3 linked regions of the Homo sapiens genome follow. The protein of the gene in region 2 interacts with the protein of the main gene of each other region in a biochemical or structural test. Each region holds a gene or a part of one and is shown on either strand. Other genes may lie near its edges.

Region 1 (7,296 bases), on a different chromosome or scaffold from region 2:
AAGGTAGATACACTAAGTACCAACCTCATATAAAGTGCTTAATGCACAGTTTGGGGGTTCATTAAAGAGGTAAGCATGGAACAACAATATGACCCAGAAATTCCACTCTTAGATATATAACCAAAAGATGTAAAAACAAGGCCCAAACAGATACTTGTACAACAATGTCCACAGCAACACTATTCACAATAGACAAAATGTAGAAACAATCCAAGTATCCATCAACAGATGAATAGATAAACAAAATGTGGTCTACACATATAATGGAATATTACTCAGCGTTAGAAAGAAATGAAATTCTGATACATGCTACAACATAGATAGACCTCAATGACATTATGCTAAGTGAAATAAGCCAGTCACAAAAGGTCAAACACTGTATGATTCTGAGGCAGGAGAATAGGGTCTGGAGGCAGGGAACCTAAGGCCGATTCCCTCTGACTTCCTAGAACTAAATCGAAAGGAAAACCGCAACTCTCCATGCCTCAGTAACAAAAGGAAGAGAGGCTACTCTCTTTGCAAATCACCCCATTTCCTGCAGGGCAGATGGAAAATTGAAAGTACGTCTGGTTGGTTGCTTTCTGCAACCAATGGGGTGAACACCAAGTGGCCAATGGGAAACCTCTAGGGGGTATTTGGAACCCAGAAGATTCTGTAACTGGGGTCCTTGAGCCCTGCTCTAGCCGCTCCCACCCTGTGGGGTGTACTTTCATTTTCAATAAATCTCTGCTTTCATTGCTTCACTCTTTCCTTGCTTTGCTGTACATTTTGTCCAATTCTTTGTTCAAAATGCCAAGAACCTGAACAATTTGCAGTCAAGATCCTCTACTGGTAACAATTCCACTTACATGAAATATCTAGAATAAGTAAGTTCATAGGGACAGAAGGTAGATTAGAAGTTACCAAGGGCTAGGGGAAGGAGAAAATGAGGAGCTATTGCATTACTGGGGCTCAGGACACACCACTTCAAAGTATGACTGCAGGAGGCTCTTGAAATATACTTCTTTGGCATATTTTAAGCTGGTTATTCTGAGAAACTGCTGATACAGGAATAGCTCTGAAAAGCTCTCCTTTTGTAAAAAAGAAAGGCATTTATATCTTAAAAGAAAATCTACATTAGTAAAATGATCTATATTAAAAGAGGGCTGCTCCAGACAACTTTTATTATCTAAGAACTTTTAATCTACATAGCAAGACAACCTCTATTCACCAAACAGCTCCTCTCCTCACCCTCCCATAACTTGTGTTATCACCATCACCCAGAAGCTCCAAGCTCTTTTCCGTAGCTCAGGATGTTATACAGGCTTCAATCATCTGACCTTTCTTTGAGTCTCATATATTGTGGGACTCCTGAGTATACATATGTAATTAAATATGGGTTTTCCGCTGGTAATCTATTTTATGACTATTTAATTCATAGGCTATTTAATTCATAGCCCAGCCAAGGAAACTAGAAGGGTGGAGGCAAGCCATCTTTCCCTCCCCTATGGTTTAAAGAGTACAGAGTTTCTGGAGTAATGAAAAAGTTCTGGAAATAGATGGTGGTGATGGTTACACAATATTGTGAATCTACTTAATGCCACTGAATGGTACACTTATAAATGGTTAACATAGGAACTTATCCATTAGGTATATTTTACCACATTTTGTAAAATACAAAAACAGGCCGGGCATGGTGGCTCATGCCTGTAATCCCAGCACTTTGGGAGGCCGAGGTGGGTGGATCACGAGGTCAGGAGTTAGAGACCAATCTGGCCAACATAGTGAAACCCCATCTCTACTAAAAATATAAAAAATAGCCAGGTATGGTGGCGTGGCCTGTAATCCCAGCTACTCGGGAGGCTGAGGCAGGAGAATGGCGTGAACCCGGAAGGAGGAGGTTGCAGTGAGCCGAGATCGCACCATTGCACTCCAGCCTGGGCGACAGTGTGAGACTCCGTCTCAAAAACAAACAGATAAACAAACAAACAAAAAACAAAGCAAAACAAACAAACAACAACAAAAAAAAACCAAAGTGCTTAATACAGTACCTGGCACATTTGAAGTGCTCATAAATGTTACCTAGTATTGTTAAGTAATGTTATTCTTAGTTGTAATAATGTTTATAAAAGTTACTGTAATACGGTGTCCTCTGTACTTTCATGAAGGGGAGTAAAAGGGCCTGAAAGGCAGCAGAGCAAGAAACCCAAGTAGTTCCTTTGTCGGGGGAGGTGGGAGGTGGGCAGGAAAGGTGTGGCAAGAGAAGGGTTCGTTGGGGAGGCTTCCTTAAGCAGAAACCACATGAGCTGGGAGGCCTTGGCAAAGATACCTCTTCAGTCTGAGCCAGTTTCTCACCTCGGATCTGGGAAGTTGGTTTTAGTTTTGCCGTGCCTGGGACATGCCCCTGGCTCCAGGCCAGCGCAACAGGGGTACTACCTCCATCCTCCCTAATCTGAAGTCCTGCATCTGAGGCAAAGTTGAGGCAGGGCTCGAGGGTGGGCGGAAGGGCCCAGGCCCGGAGGCCACTGACCCTTCTCACCTTGCCCAACTGCTCAGTGGAGAAACCGCAGCCCAGCGAGGCCGCCCCAACTCCTCCGTGTCCTCTTTTCTACTCTATCCTACCCTCCCTTCCCTGCCCCACCCGAGACGGTCAGGACCCTGGTGTCTGGACTTCCCGCTTTGTGTCACTCTCTAGGGTACTTGACCAAATCCTCCGTTAGACCCTCTCTTCCCGCCTCTCCCCACCACAGCAAACCAACAAAGCTTAACCCCATCATCCCCTAACCCAATAGTACCTCTGTAGGGCTGGGGCTGGGGCTGGGCTGGCGGCCTTCAGAGGGGGTCTCGGGGGGAGGCATGGTGGGCTCCTGGGGCCGGGCGGGGTCCTGCTGGGGCCTCGGAGATCGGGCGGGTGCAGGCTCCATGGACCCCAGCTTAGTTTCGATTCTCGGTTTAGATCTTGGAGTGCGTGAAGAGAAGCTGAAGGGGAGGCGTGAGCCAGTTGGCTGAGTCCCTTGAGCTGTCCGAAAGGGGAGGTGCCGGCTCAGGGCCCGCCTCTGGAGAGGAAGTGAGACAGAAGCTGGGGGCGGTTCTAGGGGGCAGAGAGGCCGACTGTGGGTTTTAAAGACACGCCCAGAGCGGGGAGGAGGTAGAGGCGGAGAGCTGCAGACCTACCGCTGACTTACGGTAAAGCGGGAGAGGTAGGGCAGAGCTGCAGGGGGGCAGCCCTGCTCCCGGCTTTGATCCATTCATCCGTTCACACTGGCACTGCTTCGTGCCACGTCCTGCCGGGAGCTGGGCGTACAAAGATGAGCCACACGCAGCCCCTGCTTTCTAAGAGCCGTAGATGTAATGGAAGAGCAAGCCTGCAAACGGAGACATTCTGGAAAGGAGAGCCCACAGCTGGGACCTGCAAAAGCAGTGGAAATTCACCAGGGATTTAGGGTTGTAGGTGGTGGGGTACGGGGGACACTTGAAACAGAAAAGATAGCTCTTGCAAAAGCCTGTTTGGGAACTAATTTTGGCCATTTTCAGATTTAAGAGGGAATTCATGAGAAATGATACCCAAGGAGTGTGCTAGGACAAGATCCTAGCTGAGGAGATTGAACCAGTTCTGTGAGTGATGGGAAGTTGCTGAAGGATTTGGAACCAGGGAACAACACGATCAGCTGTGCATGATGGGACAGTCACTCTGACAACCTAGGAGCAGGTGCCCTGGTCTAGGACAGTGGCTGTGGGATGCAGAGGAGGGACTTGATTCAGAGATCCTGGGAAGCCAGTGACTGGAGGTGAGGGAGCAGGATGATGCCTTGAGTGACAGCTGGAAAGGCTGGTGGATCTGAGGTGGTGGGGGCAGGAGGGAGGGGGAGAGCTGGAGAGCGGGTATGAAGAGGGTGAGGGGAGAGCCAGCTAGGTCTTCGCCAATGGAAAAGCATGTCAGACTCCCAGCTGGTAAGGGGAAAGGGGCACAGTTCCAGGTGACCTCACTGGGTCAGCGCCCCGGCTTCAAACTTAAACCATCGCAACCACTGTGCTGGCTCCTGTGTACCCATTCCGTACTCTGTTCCAACTTAGAAACAGACTAGAAAGGATGATGATAGGGCCTGGCTCTTGTAAACCTTACAGTCTGCAGGGTGGAGAGCAGGGGTTGGGCAGATACGCAACTTCCTAGGGACTGTAAGGCCTCAGGAGCCTGCCCTTCCCTCCAGCCTGGTCAGTACTCCCAGGCCTTTAGAGAATCAGTCCATGAAAGCCAAATATGGTGGGCAGCCATCTGCACAAGGGACCTGGAAGTGGGCTATGGCAGGATGGGGCTTCGGAGGCCAGAGGCGATTGGCTGAGGAGGCAGAGCTGGGGAAGCTTTATTCATTTCTTTGCTTGCTTTGGAAGATAGCCTGCTCCCAGACTACCCCAAAGTCCTGTTGGAAGTTAACACTTCTCAAAGGAAATTCACGAGTTGCATTCAGGTTTTCTCAAGCCCTGGAGAGGCAAGTTAATTCCAGGTACCTGGATCAAGGGGCATGCTCTTTCTGGACCTGCAGGACTGAGGGCCTCACCTCTGTGGTGCTCTGGGGCCCCTGCCCTCATGTAGCTCTGTGCTATCCCCTTCTTCCTTACACTCCCATGCTCCCCGAAGTCTGCATGTGAAACTTCTTTCTTTTTGTGCCAAAGTTCAGGCCTTCCTACTCCACCTTGATCACGGTGACCTGGCCAGGCCATTACTTAACAAATAAGTATTGAGACCTGCCCTATGCCAGTCCCTGCTTGCTGGGCTGTGGGTTCACAAAGAGGAATAATTTGCAGACTATGTCCCAGAGAAACCCAAAGTCCAGATATGGCATGTCCTGCCTCCAGTGTGAGAGAAGGAGTGCTGAGAAGGCTGATATAGCATGTCCTTGATCCTGGAGAAGATTGGCTTCCTGTAAACCCTGATGAGATCTTGCTCTCTCGCTCCGACTGCAGTGCAGTGGCACGATCATAGCTCACTGCAGCCTCAAACTCCTGGACTCAAGAGATCCTCCCGCCTCAGCCTCCCAAGTGGCTGGGACCACAGGCAGGCATCCCACGCCAGGCTAATTTTTAAAAATTTTTTGTAGAGATGGGCTCTCACTATGTTGCTCAGGATGGTCCTGAATTCCTGGCCTCAAGCGATCCTCCTGCCTGAGTCTCCCAAATTGATGGATTATAGGAGTGAGCCACCGTGCCCAGCTTCCCCTCCAGCTTTTCTAGGGCTGAGTAGGAGAAGAGGGGAGGAGGCGATGACCCCAGCGGGGTCCGAGGAACGCCGATCACACCCAGTAGCCCTGGGCTGCAGTTCGGTCCTCCCAGCGCAGGGGGAGCCATGCGACGGCGGAAGCGGGCCCCGGCCGGCCTCCTCTTCCTGCGCCCGCGCCGCCGCGGGTGGCCGCGCGGGTGAAGCCGGAAGCAGCAGCCAGGAGGGCGGGGCCGCGTAGGGCCCACTGGCCAGGGAGGGCGCCGCGCGGAGGCGCGGGGCGTGTCTCCTGTCAAAAGCCATGCTCGGCAGGTCTGGGTACCGGGCGCTGCCCCTGGGTGATTTTGACCGCTTCCAGCAGTCGAGCTTCGGCTTTCTGGGCTCGCAGAAGGGCTGCTTGTCCCCGGAGCGGGGCGGCGTGGGGACAGGGGCCGGTGAGTGGCCGCCTGGCACGGCGGAGCCGGGGGGGACCGGCCGGCAACCCCCAGGCCCGAATCTCTGCCTCCGAGGAGTCGGCCGGCCCGGTGCCGTCGCACCCTACGAGGGGGGACTGAGAAAGGGATACGATGTGGAGAGGGGGCTGGACCCGGCGCCTGGTGCTAGCGCCGATCCGCCCTCCCTAGGGTCATGGGGCTTTGGCCCCAGAGCCAGCCAGCGTTGCTCCTATCTTCCAAAACCTCACCTCACCACATTTGTCCTCGGCTCTTATCAGCCCTTTAGGCCTGGGAAGACGTTTCAGGTTTCTATTTCGCATAGAAGAAACCGAGGTCTAGGCAGAGGAGGCCACCAGCACCCTAAAGGCACCTGCTGCAGGGAAATGGAAGAATTTTCGCCCTAGGGGGCACCTCTAGAAGCCCGGGAACTAGGCATCTCCTGGATGTGCAGGCCAAAATGACAGGTCCTCAGCTGCCTGTTGGATCTGCCCTGCTTCTGTCTTGCCCTCAAAGTCTTCTGTGGCTCCTTTGGCCTACAGGCCAGATCCCACGCTGTTCAGCCTAACCGCCTAACCTTGGATTTGATCCCTCCCTGGCCTTCCTGTCCTGAAAGCTCTCCCTATCCAGAAGTCTCTTGAGAGGCCTGGTGGATCAGAGCCAGGCACAAAGTGGAGCCTCAGTGCTCTGGGGCTTAGCCCAGAGGGCAGGGCTTCCTGGAAGAATGGAGCAGGGCTCCCGACTGCTTCCTGTCCAGGGTTGGGAGGAAAGCGGCAAATAACCTCATCCCAGATTCTGGAGCTGTCTCGGCTTTGCTCCCAACTTGGGCTCCTGAATCTCCAGGGGCCAGGACATTTGGCTTGGATAAGCCTCATCTTTCTAGCCCTGCCCCTGACCCCGACCCCTAACAATTTTCTTGAATTGAAATAGGCAGGGTTTTTTTTTGTTTTTGTTTTTTGTTGTTTGTTGTTTTTTTGAGATGGAGTCTCGCTCTGTCCCCCAGGCTGGAGTGCAGTGGCGCCATCTCGTGAAATAGGCATTTTTTAATGGTCATTAAGGCATTAAAGTTGGGTGTGGAATAGAAAATAATAATCTAATTCCTCATCTGTGGCTCCCGTTGATAAGCTATTTATGATTTATCCCTGTAGGCTAAGGCATCATCTTCATAAGGACTCCTGGAAAGCACACTTCTGGGGCTGATGGTATAGGAGGAATGTGTTTTGCCAGCAGTATTCAGTGCATGTTTACAGATGCCCAGGTGCTCCTGGCTCCATGCCAGGTATGGGTAGGCAATATAAATTAAACGAGAGGATTGACCCCTACTCAGTCCAGTGAGGAGAGCATCATCACGCGGACTGGATTCTGAGATTGAATGGCTGTTGCCTAGCAGAGAATAAGGCCTTGTGAGGGTTGTTGGACTTGGGACAAATGAGTGTTGATGTATGGGAGGAGGGAACAGACCCTAACTTGCAGCTGCCCAAAGATACGGGAATATTAGGCAAGGAGCCAGATTGAGAGCCCTGAGAAGGAAGGAGCCTCTCGAGGGGAAGGTGGGCGTAAGGTACACTTGCCCAAGTTCACTCCGCTTGGCAGCTGTCGTGCAGGTCCAGTTGACCACCTCTGCTCTCACCTGCAGATGTACCCCAGAGCTGGCCCTCCTGCCTCTGTCATGGC
Region 2 (7,816 bases):
TTATACCTCATATAAGTGGAATCATACAGTATTTGTCTTTTTTGGAGGGGGGCTGGCTTATTCACTTAATGTCCTTAGCTTCCCCTCATGTTTTATGAAGTGTTAGAATTTCCTTCATCAGGGCTTTTTAGTATTCCATTGTGTGTATATATACATTTTTCATTCATCTGTTGATGGACAGGTGGGTTGCTTCTACCTTTTGACTTTTGTGAATAATGTTGCTTTTAACATGGGTATGCAGCTACCATTTTTTGACACTGATTTTTTATTTTTAGATGGGCACTCTGGTTTTTTAAAAATGATAAAAGCAAAACTTGGCAAGCAAACCTGCGGCTGATCTCCAAGTTTGATACTGTTGAAGACTTTTGGGCGTAAGTAACCATTTGTTTTAGTATGTTTGTTGTTTTATTCGTTGTGTAGTTTTTTTATTTTTAAGTCGAATTCACAAAATGAAGTGTGAGTTAAACAGTTAATGAATGTTCATCTATTTTTTTATCTCCTCACAAAAGTTTGAATTGGTGATTATGCTTTATTAGTTTTACAGAGCTTCAATCTTGTCATCCCCCAGCCCCAATTATTGTTTCTTGTCCTGAGATATCCTTAGCTCAAGAATCCATTATTGCCCTTAGAACTTTTGACAGCTAGTTGGAACTTGTTCCACTCCTGGTTGCCAAGATACATTTGCCTCATAACTGGGTATTGCAGTGCGTTGTTGGGTCCTCATTTCTGCAAACTGTTTTCAGTGCAATATCTGGAATTTCCTGTACCAGAGATTTTAAGATATCAAAGGCTGAAGTGTTCAGAATTCACGGTTTGTCAAGGCAATGCCAGTATCTATCATGATACTTTATTCATTTCATTATACTTTGATCAACCTCAAGAAGAATAGTTGAAATATTTTTGAAATTTTGTTTCTGTATAGCAGAAAGTTAAGAATTGGGATCATCAACTTTTGCATGACCTTAAAACAAAATTTAAGGCTGGGCTCAGTGACTCATGCCTGTAATACTAATACTTTGGGATGCTGAGGCAGGAAGATCACTTGCAGCCAGGAGTTCAAGACCAACCTGGTCAACATGAGTCCCTGTTTCTCTATAAAATAAATAAAAATTGTAAAGTCTATTTCAAGAAGTTTTGATAATTGATTCTCTTAAAAACAAAGTTAATCCAGTGTGTCTAATTTACTTGGAGAATGACTAGGGAGGTACTATTTGAGACCATGAAAGGCAAAACTCTTTAATAAGCACTTTAAATTACCTAGCAGTTATCTAAATATTCTAACTTGTACATCTTTTTTTAGGATCATATACATGCTGAATTAGTGATGCTACTCTTATGTTTTAATGTAACCCCCTCAAGATATTCTGCTCATACAAAGAAATAGATTGTGGTATAAAATTTATACATATGTATGTACATCTTCAACAGCAGAAACAATATTTTTCTGTATATTTCCAGTGCTTGGCTTCTAATAGATATTTTGTATTCATTTGTGTTGCTGAAAAAAGCAAAGCATACGATTAAAACCATAAACTTTGAGAGTATTTGAGAACATTCATTTGAGAGTAAACTTTGAGAGTATTTATTTTTTATTAAAAGCATTGACACTTAATAATAACTACATTTAAGGCCTAATAATTTATAGGTCTAGTTTTCTAGTTAAACTAGGATTATTATTCTTTGCCCATCATCAAAACATCAAGTAGTTTTTCTTCTCTAGTTTTGTTTATTCAGGACTCTTAAATAACTCCAGTCTTCTGCACCCCCCAAAAAAAAGCTTTTCATTCTCCTACAGAGAAAAAGGAAGCCTTGAGCCACCTTCCCCAATCAGATTTGCATTTATCTAGTTTGTTTGGCTTTTACCAGTTTACATAATTCTACCTTCTAATTAGAACAGTTCTCCATGCTTCAGTTACATGTAGTCAATGTCATTACATAGTAGGTTTTTATACCATAACTTAGAGATATGAAGGATTTTTCAGTTTTCTATAAATGTGTGGGCCACTTCCTAATTTCTGTTTTTTTCTAGCAAATTTATTGCAGATAACCATTGAGTCCTTTTGTATTTATCCAGACTGCATAGTCTTAGGATTCTGTTTAGATGTGCCATTATAAATTCTCATGATGGACTTACTTGAGAGACCTTTGAGCACCACAGAAGAGAAAGGAGGCAGCAAAAGGGAAAAAGTATTTTATTGAAGGTCATTCCCACAATATCCATTCATTTTATGACATTAGTAGCGCTAATTTTATAGTCACTTAGTATCCCGTCTTTTTTTGTTGCCTAGTGGAGGCTGTCATTGATGATGTAGTTGGGAGTTACCATTAGGTAGTGACTCAGCAAACCTTATGTGGTCTTAGGTTGTCTCACCTAAACTATATTTGTGTGTTATACTATGGAATTTGATTTAAAGATGCCAACTTCTTTCTTAAATCTTTTTTTTTTTTTTGAGATGGAGTCTAGCTCTGTCACCAGGCTGAAGTGCAATGGGGTGATCTCGGCTCACTGCAACCTCCGCCTCCTGGGTTCAAGCGATTTTCCTGCCTCAGCCTCCCTAGTAGCTGGGATTACAGGCGCATGCCACCACGCCCGGCTAATTTTTGTATTTTTAGTAGAGACAGGGTTTCATCATGTTGGTCAGGCTGGTCTCGAACTCCTGACCTCATGATCCACCTGCCTCGGCCTCCCAAAGTGCTGGGATTACAGGCGTGAGCCACTGCACCCGGCCCTTAAATCTTTACCTGAAATATTCCTAGATGGGGTTAACATAGCACCAGGAGAACCAGACTAAGGATAGTAGAATCATCCATGGTCTGTAGACACAGCTAAGATCATTATTTCTGCCATCTAATATTGGAGACAAGCAAAAGATTCTTAAGAGTTGCCAATTTTTAAATCAATTTTGCTGTAAAAGACTACAGGAGATCAAATGATCTAAGCCTCCTACCTTCAGGCAAGCAACTAAGTCATCGCAAATGTTATTCTGTTATTTTGATACTTGGGAAATAGTTTAGAAATACAGACTGCAGGGTTCCATCTTATATTTAGGTGATTATAATCCCAAGATGTAGGGCTTGTAACTATATTTATTTATTTATTTTTCTAAAATCAGTTTTAAAATGATTATTATGTTGACTAACCAGTGACAGTTTGTGGTGTTTGGGAACCGTTGATCTATTCTACTCTTGGATACCTTCAAGGATAATGACTGTTTCAGTCATGCAATCCTGATGGTCAGGAAGTTCATCGTTTCTGGTTTTTGTTTTTGTTTTTGTTTTTGTTTTTTTATGTTTGTGAAAAAAACTGTGTATTAACTTCAGAAATTATTTCATCTACTTAAAGCCACCTTATACCTCTCTTCTCAGTTTCTTATATATATACATATGTATGCACTGAGTTAACTAACATAAAATATATTTTTGTCAGAGCAGTCACTAGAAGTTTTTTTGAAAATTATACCTGTCATCTGAAGTTGATTATTTAACTGCTTTTAAGATCTGTTTTGTCCATTTTAGAAATTGACTCCTTAGAAACAAGTAAACATGAACTTTTATCTGTTTATTTTCATCATATGTTCTAAATGTATATATATGTAAGCACCTAAACTCTATATTACATATTCTGTGTTTTTAATTGTTATTTTCTTTTACCTAGTCTGTACAACCATATCCAGTTGTCTAGTAATTTAATGCCTGGCTGTGACTACTCACTTTTTAAGGTATGCTTAATTGGTGATTTTATATATTTATTATAGGACTGGGCCATTTGGTATTCATTAAGAAATCTTACCATAAACTTAGGAATATTTGATAGTGTGATGAATAGGCTGATAATTTAATTGGCTGTAGTATGCTTTAGTATCAATATATCTTATTCTATTTGTTTATAAAAATTGAGAGAGAGTTACTCTGTGGGCACATACTGAGATTGATTTTGATGAGAGCTTTGATTATCCAGTCTACTCCTTCCTTTATATATTTGAGCAGACTGAGTTTATCAAGCATTCTTAACCTTAGGAGCATGGGTCCTTGGAATACTTATTATTGGGCTTTGTCAGTTGGTAGAGGGACGGGACATTCATTAACTGAAATTGCATAGTTTTTGCATGTATTTTCTAGCTGTAGAAATGTACAGAGCTTCTAAAATATGTTTGCTTCTCAGAAAGTTTAAGAACCTTCAAATTAAGTGAAACCCAAGATTTGATAGCTAATAAGTGACAAAGCCAGGACTCTAATTCTGCAATGTCATGCCTCTGGCTTTAAGTCTTATGTGCTGTTTAAAAACTACATCAATGGCAGTTTTATGGGCAATAAAGTAAGAAGTTGACAGTGTTGTTGCTTAACTGTTTCTAATGATTATCTCTCAAAGTCAAGGTAACAATGTTGTGTAATACTGTTGTCTTCTAACCCTGTAGGATGGTATTGAGCCTATGTGGGAAGATGAGAAAAACAAACGGGGAGGACGATGGCTAATTACATTGAACAAACAGCAGAGACGAAGTGACCTCGATCGCTTTTGGCTAGAGACAGTAAGGTTTTAAAAGTATAAAGCAGTTTTAGAGGTAGTTTTGGAATACTGATACTTAAGATATGTTATGTTTTACATTTGTTACTTAATTTAAGAGAAGGATGCCCAACACTAGAAAATCAGGGTCAGTAATTATTTTTGTTCTGTCATATGACTCCTGTTTATAGTACAGTGAAACATCCTACCACATTATAAGTCAGATATTTTAAGTGATTGGCAGTTGACTCTCACCACAGTAAGCTCACTGTGGTCATTTCATTAACCTCAAAATTATAGAACCTTACATTTTGTATGATTGAAGTTTTTGCAACCCTCTTACAGCATTGCTATATGTATACTAAACTTTTAAATACTTATATTTTTAGAGCGAGGGTCTTGCTCTGTTGCCCAGGCTGGAGTGCGGATATTTATTTATATGGCTCATTTCAGCCTCACCCTCTGGGTTCAAGTGATCCTCCCACTTCAGCCTCTTAAGTAGCTGGGACTACAGGTGCATGCCACCATGCCCAGCTAATTTTCTAATTTTTTTCCAGAGATGGGATCTTGCTATGTTGCCCAGGTTGGTCTCAAACTTCTGGCCTCAAGTGATCCTCCCACTTCAGCCTCCCAAAGTGCTGGAATTACAGGTGTGAGTCACTGTGCCTGTCCCACTAAACTTTTTAGATTAGTGAAGCAAATAATAAAATTGTTGTGTACTACCATTTGACCTACATGTTGTGATATTAACTGGAACTTCTGGCTTTACAAGACAAATTAAATATGAGATAATAAGCATTTTCTGTAGACAGAGGTTCCAAACCCCAAGCTTATAGGAGCGGGGTTTGTAGTCTCTTTTGTATCCCTAGCACTTGAAACCGTGCCTGGTTTATAGTTAGCACTTGTTAAGTTAATCACTTTAAATGTTTGAATAAGTGACTATTTTGCTTTTTTTTAGAGACAGGGTCTTGTTCTGTCGCCCAGGCTAGAGTGCAGTGGGGCCATCATAGCTCACTGTAGCCTCCTGGGTTCAAGCAATCATCCTGCCTTAGCCTCTCAAGTAGCTGGGACTACAGGTGCATGCCAGCACAGCCAGCTAATGAATGAATGACTTTTTAAGAAGAAAATTCTGTTTTTGAGGGGGAAGATCATGAGCAAATACCATTTTTGAATTCCACATTAAAAAGTCAGGACATTTCCATTTTGCAGTTAAAAAAAATCTTCTGGAGATGGATGGTAGTAGGGATGGTTGTACAACAATGTTGAATGTACTTAACACCACTGAACTGTACACTTAAAGGTGGTTAAAATGGTAAATTTTATGTTATTTGTATTTTACCACAATTAAGAAATCTGTTAGGGCTGGGCTCACACCTGTGATCTCAACACTTCAGGAGGCTGAGGCAGGCATTTCACTTAAACTCAGGAGTTCAAGACCAGTTTGGGCAACATGGCAAAACCCTGTCTCTACAAAAAATACAAAAATTAACTGGGTATGGTGACATGTCCCTGTATGTATGCCCACCTACTCAGGAGGCTGAGGTGGAAGGATCATTTGAGCCCAGGAGGTTGAGGCTGCAGTGAGCTGTGATGATCCCACTGCACTCCAGCCAGGGTGACAGAGCAAGACCCTGTCTCAAACAACAACAACAACAAAAAACCAGACCATTAACAAATATTCATAAAAAATAAGAACAAGAGGAGATTAACCATGAATAGCTATTTTTATTATTCTATTAATATTTGTTTGCTCATAAATATAAGCAGCAGCAGAGCAAATGAATATTAATAAAATCAGCTTTTATGTCTGCCATGACATTAACTGCCAAATTTGCTGAAAAAGGCTGATTTGATAGTAAATAAATGAATGAGTATTTAAAAGTCAGGACAGATCAATATATGCAAATAAAATTTACACATTTAAAAAATTAACTCTTGATTTAAAAACTGCCTTTAGTTTCTATGCAAATACAGAAGAGACATTTGCAGTGTAATGAGCTTGTTTATAATCTATTAAATGTAATTTGGGATTTTTTTTTAAGCTTCTGTGCCTTATTGGAGAATCTTTTGATGACTACAGTGATGATGTATGTGGCGCTGTTGTTAATGTTAGAGCTAAAGGTGATAAGATAGCAATATGGACTACTGAATGTGAAAACAGAGAAGCTGTTACACATATAGGGTAAGTTTTGCTCTTTGCCTACTTATTTTACAGTATTAAGATGAGTAAAACCAGAAGTTATTTTATTTGTAGCTTTAGAAATACTTCAGTTTGTAGATCCTGTTTTCCTTGTATTGTTTTCGTGAACACTTTTATAATTTTGAACGGCTCAATTGGTGCGCAACGTCTTGTTTTTTTGGGTTTTTTCACAGCTATTTATTTATTTATTTATTTAGAGATAGAGTCTCACTCTGTTGTCCAGGCTATATATAGTACAGTGGCATGATCTAGGCTCACTGCAACCTCCGCCTCCCGGGTTCAGGAGATTGTTATGTCTCAGCCTCCCGAGTAGCTGGGAATACAGGCGCATGCCACCATGCTTGGGTAATTTTTATATTTTTAGTAGAGACCAGGTTTTGCCACGTTGGCCAGGCTGGTCTTTTAACTTTTGGTCTCAAGTGATCCGTCCACCTCAGCCTCCCAAAGTGCTATCATTACAGGCATGAGCCACTGCGCCTGGCCTTTTTCATATGTTTTTTATTTCTGTAAAATTGCTTTTTCTTAGCAGTGAAGTATATAACCACTAGAGCACTCTCCTTTGGCATGTAGCATTTTTTATTCATTCACAAATGAGAATGTATTATTTCCTACTTTGAAAGTGCTGTTTGGAAAAAAGTACTACTTTGAAAAGAGCTAATGTATGCTCATAATAATAATTCAGTGATTATTGGCAAATAGTATATGTGCATTTAAAGCATGTGTGTTTACTACGTATAATTTTCATTAAAATTTATATAACATATCTTGGTTTTTGTTCCATGTTTAAAACCCACATATGTAGGGTTTTATTAAACCTTTTTTTGTAAATTTTATTCTTTGCAAAAGTGGCTTTTTTTTTTTTTTTGAGACAGGGTCTCACTGTGTTATTCAGGCAAGAGTGCAGTGGTGCAGTCATGGCTCACTTCAGCCTCAACCTCCTGGGCTCAGGTGATACTCCTACCTCAGCCACCCAATTAGCTGCAACTACAGGTGTGTATGACCACACCTGGCTATTTTCTTGTATTTTTTGTAGAGAAGAGGTTTTGCCATGTTGCCCAGACTGGTCATGAACTCCTGGACTTGATCAAGCCACCTCAGCCTTTCAAAGTGCT
Region 3 (7,000 bases), on a different chromosome or scaffold from region 2:
TTTTCTACCCTGAGGGAGTATGGGAATTTGTATTTGACGCAAGTGGTCATTGTTCAATAAGTGGATAACATTTAAGCATCTTGGCAGGAGTGCATAGCTGGAGTTAGCACTGTTCATGGCTTGAATAGATCTCCAGACCCTCAAAGTATGTGGGTATAGTTGTGTTTGCATTGAATTAATAAGTTCAGACAGTTTTATTTATTTATTTTTGAGACAGAGTCTTGCTTTGTCGCCCAGGCTGGAGTGCAGTGGTGTAATCTCGGCTCACTGCAACCTACGCCGGCTGGATTCCAGCCATTCTCATGCCTCAGCCTCCTGAGTAGCTGGGATTACAGGCGTGTGCCACCAGGTCCAGGTAATTTTTTGTAAGGCGTGATCAGACTGGGTTTCACCATGTTGACCAGGCTGGTCTCGAACTCCTGGCTTCAGGTGATCCGCCTGCCTCAGCCTCCCAAAGTGCTGGGATTACAGGCATTGAGCCACCGCACCTGGCCCTGATCTGGTGAAACCTGGTCTCTACTAAAAGTACAAAAATTAGCCGGGCGTGGTGGCGCCTGCCTGTAATTTCAGCTACTCAGGAGGCCAAGGCAGGAGAATCGCTTGAACCCACGAGGCAGAAGTTGCAATGAGCCGAGACTGCACCACTGCGCTCCAGCCTGGGTTACAGAGTGAGACTCCACCTCAAAAAAAACAAAATCAAAGGTCTTCTAGAAAATGTTTGGAACCCACGTCTTTTTTTTTTTTTTTTTTTTTTTTTTTTGAGATTGAGTCTCGCTCTGTTGCCAGGCTGGAGTATAGTGGCATGATCTTGGCTCACTGCAACCTCCGCCTCTTGGGTTCAAACGATTCCCCTACCTCAGCCTCCTGAGTAGTTGGGACTACAGGTGTGCGCCACCATGCCTGGCTAATTTTTTGTATTTTAGTAGAGACGGGGTTTCACTGTGTTGGCCAGGATGGTCTTGATCTCCTGACCTTGTGATCCGCCTGCTTCTACCTCCCAAAGTGCTGGGATTACAGGCGTGAGCCACTGCACCCGGCCGAGAACCACATCTTAAGTCAATGGAGAGGATTCCTGTAATCCCAGCACTTTGGGAGGCCGAGGTGGGCAGATCATGAGATCAGGAGATCGAGACCATCCTGGCTAACACGGTGAAACCCCGTCTCTACTAAAAATACATAAAATTAGCCAGGCGTGGTGGCAGGCGCCTGTAGTCCCAGCTACTTGGTAGGCTGAGGCAGGAGAATGGCGTGAACCCGCGAGGCGGAGATTGCAGTGAGCCGAGATCGCTCTACTGCACTCCAACCTGGGTGACAGCGAGACTCCATCTCAATAAATAAATAAATAAATAAATAGGATTGCCACATTTTGCCATTTATATTGAGGCTTCAATAGATGTGGCAAGTTTATGAATTCATTAATTCAGCATCCACTGTGTGCTGCTACACTCAGTGCTAGATGTAGGATTGAAGAGCTAAGGTAGAAATCTTTGCCCTCAAAGAACTTGGTCCTTTTGGTTAGAGGTGGGTAAACAAAACGTCATGAGGCAAGTACAGTGATAACTGATAACTCTGCTGTGAGAGTAGTCTGGGGAAGGAGGAATTAAGGCTTTCTAAAAGAAGTTGACATCTCAGCTAAATTAGAAGAATGAGTAAGAATTAACCCAGGTTTACATAGCTTTCTCTTCTGCCGGCCTGCTTTTTCCAATTCCATTGCTGCTCCATAGAATTTTAATAAATGGATTTCAGTCACGTTTCAGGCTTTTTTTTTTTTTTTTTTTTGCTAGAGGAGGTACCAGAGAAAGTGACAGTCAAACACAAGCTAAAAATTCAAAGTATTTTCTGTATCATAATCTAAGGAATTAGTGTATGAGAAGGAGATACATACCTGATCTGATCTGTGGTGGGTCTTTTCCTGGTCTCCTTCCCAGTGCATCTCGTAATATCCTTGCCCTTTTAATACTAGACTTTGGCTTAGAAACAGTACTTGCTAGTCTTAAAATAGAAGTAGATTTACCTTGGTGTATTGAGAAGTGTACCTGATTTGGAGGCAAAAAATCTGGTTTTGAGTTTGGCTCTTTCATTGTAGTAGATATCTTATCTTAGACTAACCATGCAACTGCTTCAGGCATTGGTTATCCCTTCTCTGAAATGTAGGGTCTAGACTCATTTATTCAGTGACCTTCTTGAATTATAATTGCTTATGATTGTCTTTTGAGATTTGTGTTATTCTTGCAAGTGGAGAGGAGGGATTTACAGAAACCAGTTAATGTTTTCTTTGTCTGATGGTAAGTGACATGTTCTGTGGTGGCTTATTGATATTAGAAGATACTAACATGGGGCAGAGGCAGAGGCAAAGCAGCAGTTTGCTCATATAAGCTACTTCTGGTTTTTGGCTTGTTAATGTTAGATTCAGCCACAGAGACAGAAGCACCTCTCTAACTTCAGTGGTGAAGACTGTATAGTTAGTTGTGAGATAGTGGGAGACCATAAAATAAGGTTGCCATGGTCATTTGCTGGCTTGTTCTGGGTGATGATACAGTTAGTTCATTATGAGATATGAGGGAAAGTAAGTTCTGGAATAAACTCCCGTGGTGCTGTGGTGAGACACAATCTATTTTTACCTAAGGAATAATACTTTGAGCTAATATAATAGGAAAGTAACTAGTTCCTGATTATTAGCCACGCATATGACTTTAAGCAATGGATAAACTGCAGCTGAGACTTACACGGATGAGATATTGCAGGATCCCAAGCGACTTCTGAATTCTCAAATGGCTTCCAGTTCTTTGGCTTGCTGCCAACCAAAGGAATTTTTCAATCTCCTGTAGCTCAGCTGAAATTTGAGAAAGTTAAACTATTTTAAGTGCATTTGAAATTTGTTGGTTTTTACGACTTTTTTTTTTTTTAATTTATTTTTTTAGACAGGGACTTGCTCTGTCACCCAGGCTGGAGTGTGATCTTGGCTCACTGCAACCTCTGCTTCCTGGGTTCAAGTGATTCTCATGCCTCAGCCTCCCAAGTAGCTGGGATTACAGGTGTGTACCACCACACCTAGCTAATTTTTGTATTTTTAGTAGAGATGGATTTTGCCATGTTGGCCAGGCTGCTCTTGAACTCCTGACTTCAAATGATCCATCCACCTTGACCTCCCCAAGTGCTGGGATTACGGGTGTTAGCTACTATGCTCTACCATGATCTTTATTAACTAATAATTGTTTTGTACTTTTTTTTGAGACAGAGTCTCTGTCGCCCAGGCTGGAGTGCAGTGGCGCAGTCTCGGCTCACTGCATCCTCCACCTCCTGGGTTCAAGTGATTCTCCTGCCTTAGCTTCCTGAGTAGCTGGGATTACAGGTGCGCGCCATCACACCCATCTAATTTTTGTATGTGGGGTACAGGTGGGGTTTTACCATGTTGGCCAGGCTGTTCTCGAACTCCTGACCTCAAGTGATCCACCCATCTCAGCCTCCCAAAGTGCTGGGATTACAGGCATGAGCCACCACACCTGGCCTGTTGTGTACTTTTTTGAGCCCACTGTGTGCTGCCTGACTTTATAAGACATTGAATTTTGTTAATAGAATGTAAACTCCATGAAGGCAGAGATTTTTGTTTATTTTGTTCACTGTGGAATTGCTAGCACCTAGAATACTGCTTGACAGACAGTAGGCAGTCTGTAAATTTATTTGTTTGTTTGTTTGTTTGTTTGTTTATTTATTTATTTTTGAGATGGAGTTTCACTCTTGTCGCCCTGGCTGGAGTGCTAGTGGCACAATCTCAGTTCACTTCAACCTCCGCCTCCTGGATTCAAGTGATTCTCCTGCCTCAGCCTCTAGAGTAGCTGGGACTACAGGCGTGCACCACCACGCCTGGCTAATTTTTGTATTTTTAGTAGAGGCGGGGTTTCACCATGTTGGTCAAGATGTTCTCAATCTCCTGATCTTGTGATCCGCCTGCCTTGGCCTCCCAAAGTGCTGGGATTACAGGCTTGAGCCACCGTGCCTGGCCTGTAAATATTTATTAAATAAAAAGTGTGTTGGACTTTGGGAATCAATTTGAAGATAAGTTTTAGGATTAATATAGATGGCATCACAACTCACTTACAGCATTCAAAGCTGCCCTCAAATTATTTTGCAGGGATGTATAATTGAATTGAAAATAATTCTGTAATTTCCTTTCAGATGGAATAGCATTGACCCAGTTTACAAAGCCATCTGAAGTGCCTGAGTTGTATTTGAAGTACATATTGATACTGAGGATTAGGGTTGGTATGAAGGCCAAAGAGGAACAACATCTGTAGTCAAATATTATTATTAAAAACTTATGATTATAAGAGCAAGACATAATTAAATGAGAAATTTGGAAAAATATAGAAAAGTAAAAAATCACTCATAATCTTATTAGTGGAGACAACCCCTTTTATTTTATTTTATTTTATTTATTTATTTTTTTGGGGGGAGAGAGTGTTGCCCTGTTTCCCAGGCTGGAGTGCAGTGGCACAATCTTGGGTCACTGCAACCTCTGCCTCCCGGGTTCAAACAATTCTGCCTCAGCCTCCCAAGTAGCTGGGATTACAGGTGCATGCCATTATACGCAGCTAATTTTTGTATTTTGGGTAGAGGTGGGGTTTCACCATGTTGGCCAGGCTGGTCTCGAACTCTTGACTTCAGGTGATCTGCCCACCTCGGCCTCCCAAGGTGCTGGGATTACAGGTGTGAGCCACCGCGCCTTGCCACTTTTTTAAAGAGGTGGGGTCTTACTCTACCTCCCAGGGCATGGTCATGGCTCACTACAGCCTTGACCTCCTGGGCTCAAGCAATCCTCCCACCTCAGCCTCCCAAGGAGCTCGGACCACAGGTGTGTGCCACCACACCTAGCTAATTTTTTTGTAGAGATGGGGTTTTGCCATGTTACCCAGGCTGGTCTCGAACTCTTGGGCTCAAGCCACCTGCTCACCTTGGCCTCCCAAAGTTCTGGGATTACAGGCATGTGTCCCAGTGTGTAGCTGTGATAACCACTTTTAACATTTTGGTGTATTTCTGTCCTGATTTTTTTTTTTCTGTGGATTTTAATATTAGTGGTCATACATTTTTGTAACATAAAGTCAGATTATGTACCTAGTTTTGTATCTTGCTTAATTTGCTACCTAAGTATCTGCCATGAAAAGTACTTTTTTTGGCCAGGTGTGGTGGTTCATGCCTGTAATCCCAGTACTTTGGGAGGCTGGGGCAGGAGGATCACTTGAGTCTAGGAATTTGAGACCAGCCTGGGCAACATAGTGAGACCCCATCTCTAATAAAAATTAAAAAATAGTTTGCCAGGAGTGGCAGTGCATGCCTGTAGTCCCTGCTACTCAGGAGGCTGAGGCCGGAGGATTGCTTGAGCCCGGGAGGTCAAGGCTGTAGTGAGACCTGATTGTGTGATTGCACACCAGCCTGGGTGAAAGGGCAAGACTGTCCCCCAAAAATAAAAAGAGATACTTTTTTTTTTTAAAAAATTGAGACGGAGCCTCGCTCTGTCACCCAGGCTGGAGTGCAGTGGCACGATCTCAGCTCACTGCAACCTTGGCCTCCCGGGTCAAGCAATTCTCCTGCCTCAGCCTCCTGAGTAGCTGGGATTACAGGTGCCCTCCACCACGACCGGCTAATTTTTTGTATTTTTAGTAGAGACGGGGTTTCACCATGTTGGCCAGGCTGGTCTCAAACTCCTGACCTCAAGTGATCTGCCCACCTCAGCCTCCCAAAGTGTTGGGATTACAGGCGTGAGCCACCACACCCAGCCAAGAGATACTTCTTGAATAGTTTTATTCTGTATCTACTTGAAATATAAGTGAACTTTTTGTTTATTTGGAATGCTTTTCTTGGGAATATTTTTTCACCTTTGGCTTTTAGCTTAGAAGTTATGACTGCACATTACAAAGGGGAATGTTCAAACCTTTATCAGTAAGTCAAACATCTTTTGAGTTATTGTTCCTGTAATGTTTTGCATTATTTGCAAGATTAAAACTCAGTGTAACATCACAAGTTTTTTTCCCATACAATTATTTACATTTCTTTATTATCTCTTTAAGTTCATCTTTATATGTTCAAGTATACTAAGTTTTTAAAAAAGGCTGGGAGCCAGAGTCCTAATTTTTTTTTTCTTTGTGACGGAGTCTCACTCTGTTGCCCAGGCTGGATTGCAGTGTTGTGATCTTGGCTCATTGCAACCTCCACCTCCCGGGTTCAAGCGGTTCCCCTGCCTCAGCCTCCTGAGTAGCTGGGATTACAGGCACCCGGCACCACGCCTGGCTAATTTTTGTATTTTTAGTTGAGGCAGGGTTTCACCATATTGGCCTGGCTGGTCTTGAACTCCTGACCTTGGCCTTCCAAAGTACTGGGATTACAGACGTGAGCCACTGCACCTAGTGTATTTATATATTGGCCAGGCTGGTCTCGAACTCTTCATCTCAGGTGATCCATCTGCCTCAGCTTCCCAAAGTGCTGGGATTACAGGCGTGAGCCATCGCGTCTGGCATTTAGTTGGTTTTCAGGAAGTGTTAGTATCATGAGGAGTGATTGAAGGAAGGAGGAAAAGACCACAGGGATTCATGCGGGATGAGGGAAAGAGGATTGAAGTGTGGGAACAAACATAATTTTGGAATAAGGAGAGAAAATTAAGTGGGAATAGAAAATGAACACAGCCAGTTTTAAACCAGAATACTATTTTTACATTGAGAATGGAAAGGACTGAACCTTGAAGGTTAAATGAGATGATTCCTGACCTTTTTTCTAGGTCCTAGTAATTAGTATGTAAGAAATAGAACTTGGTCGGAGAACTTGGCCAGGTGCAGTGACTCATGGCCTGTAATCCCAGCACTTCAGGAGCCCAAGGTGGGTGGATTGCTTGAGTTCAGGAGTTTGAGACCATCCTGGATGACATGACAAAACCCCGTCTTTACAGAAAATACAAAAATTAGCCAGGCGCGGTTGCACGTGCCTGTAGTCCCAGCTACTTGGGAGGCTA

The links.
Region 1: the proteins of EIF4E (region 2) and PML form a complex in vitro, tested with the Homo sapiens proteins (4 studies listed by BioGRID and IntAct).
Region 3: the proteins of EIF4E (region 2) and EIF4G3 form a complex in vitro, tested with the Homo sapiens proteins (3 studies listed by BioGRID and IntAct, with this or other methods).

What each region holds. Positions count from the first base shown.
Region 1 is NC_000015.10:73,990,420-73,997,715, reverse strand, and holds the start of PML (protein PML), read right to left. Parts: upstream 3,001-7,296; 5' UTR 2,904-3,000; coding exon 2,775-2,903; intron 1-2,774. Other genes in the region: STOML1 (stomatin-like protein 1), read left to right, coding at 5,493-5,625, 7,259-7,296.
Region 2 is NC_000004.12:98,883,792-98,891,607, reverse strand, and holds part of EIF4E (eukaryotic translation initiation factor 4E), read left to right. Parts: intron 1-275; coding exon 276-371; intron 372-3,655; coding exon 3,656-3,719; intron 3,720-4,415; coding exon 4,416-4,529; intron 4,530-5,061; coding exon of another isoform or gene 5,062-5,154; intron 5,155-6,546; coding exon 6,547-6,686; intron 6,687-7,816. UniProt on the Homo sapiens protein: Acts in the cytoplasm to initiate and regulate protein synthesis and is required in the nucleus for export of a subset of mRNAs from the nucleus to the cytoplasm which promotes processes such as RNA capping, processing and splicing.
Region 3 is NC_000001.11:21,166,898-21,173,897, reverse strand, and holds part of EIF4G3 (eukaryotic translation initiation factor 4 gamma 3), read left to right. Parts: intron 1-5,858; exon of another isoform or gene 5,859-5,937; intron 5,938-7,000. UniProt on the Homo sapiens protein: Component of the protein complex eIF4F, which is involved in the recognition of the mRNA cap, ATP-dependent unwinding of 5'-terminal secondary structure and recruitment of mRNA to the ribosome. Functional homolog of EIF4G1.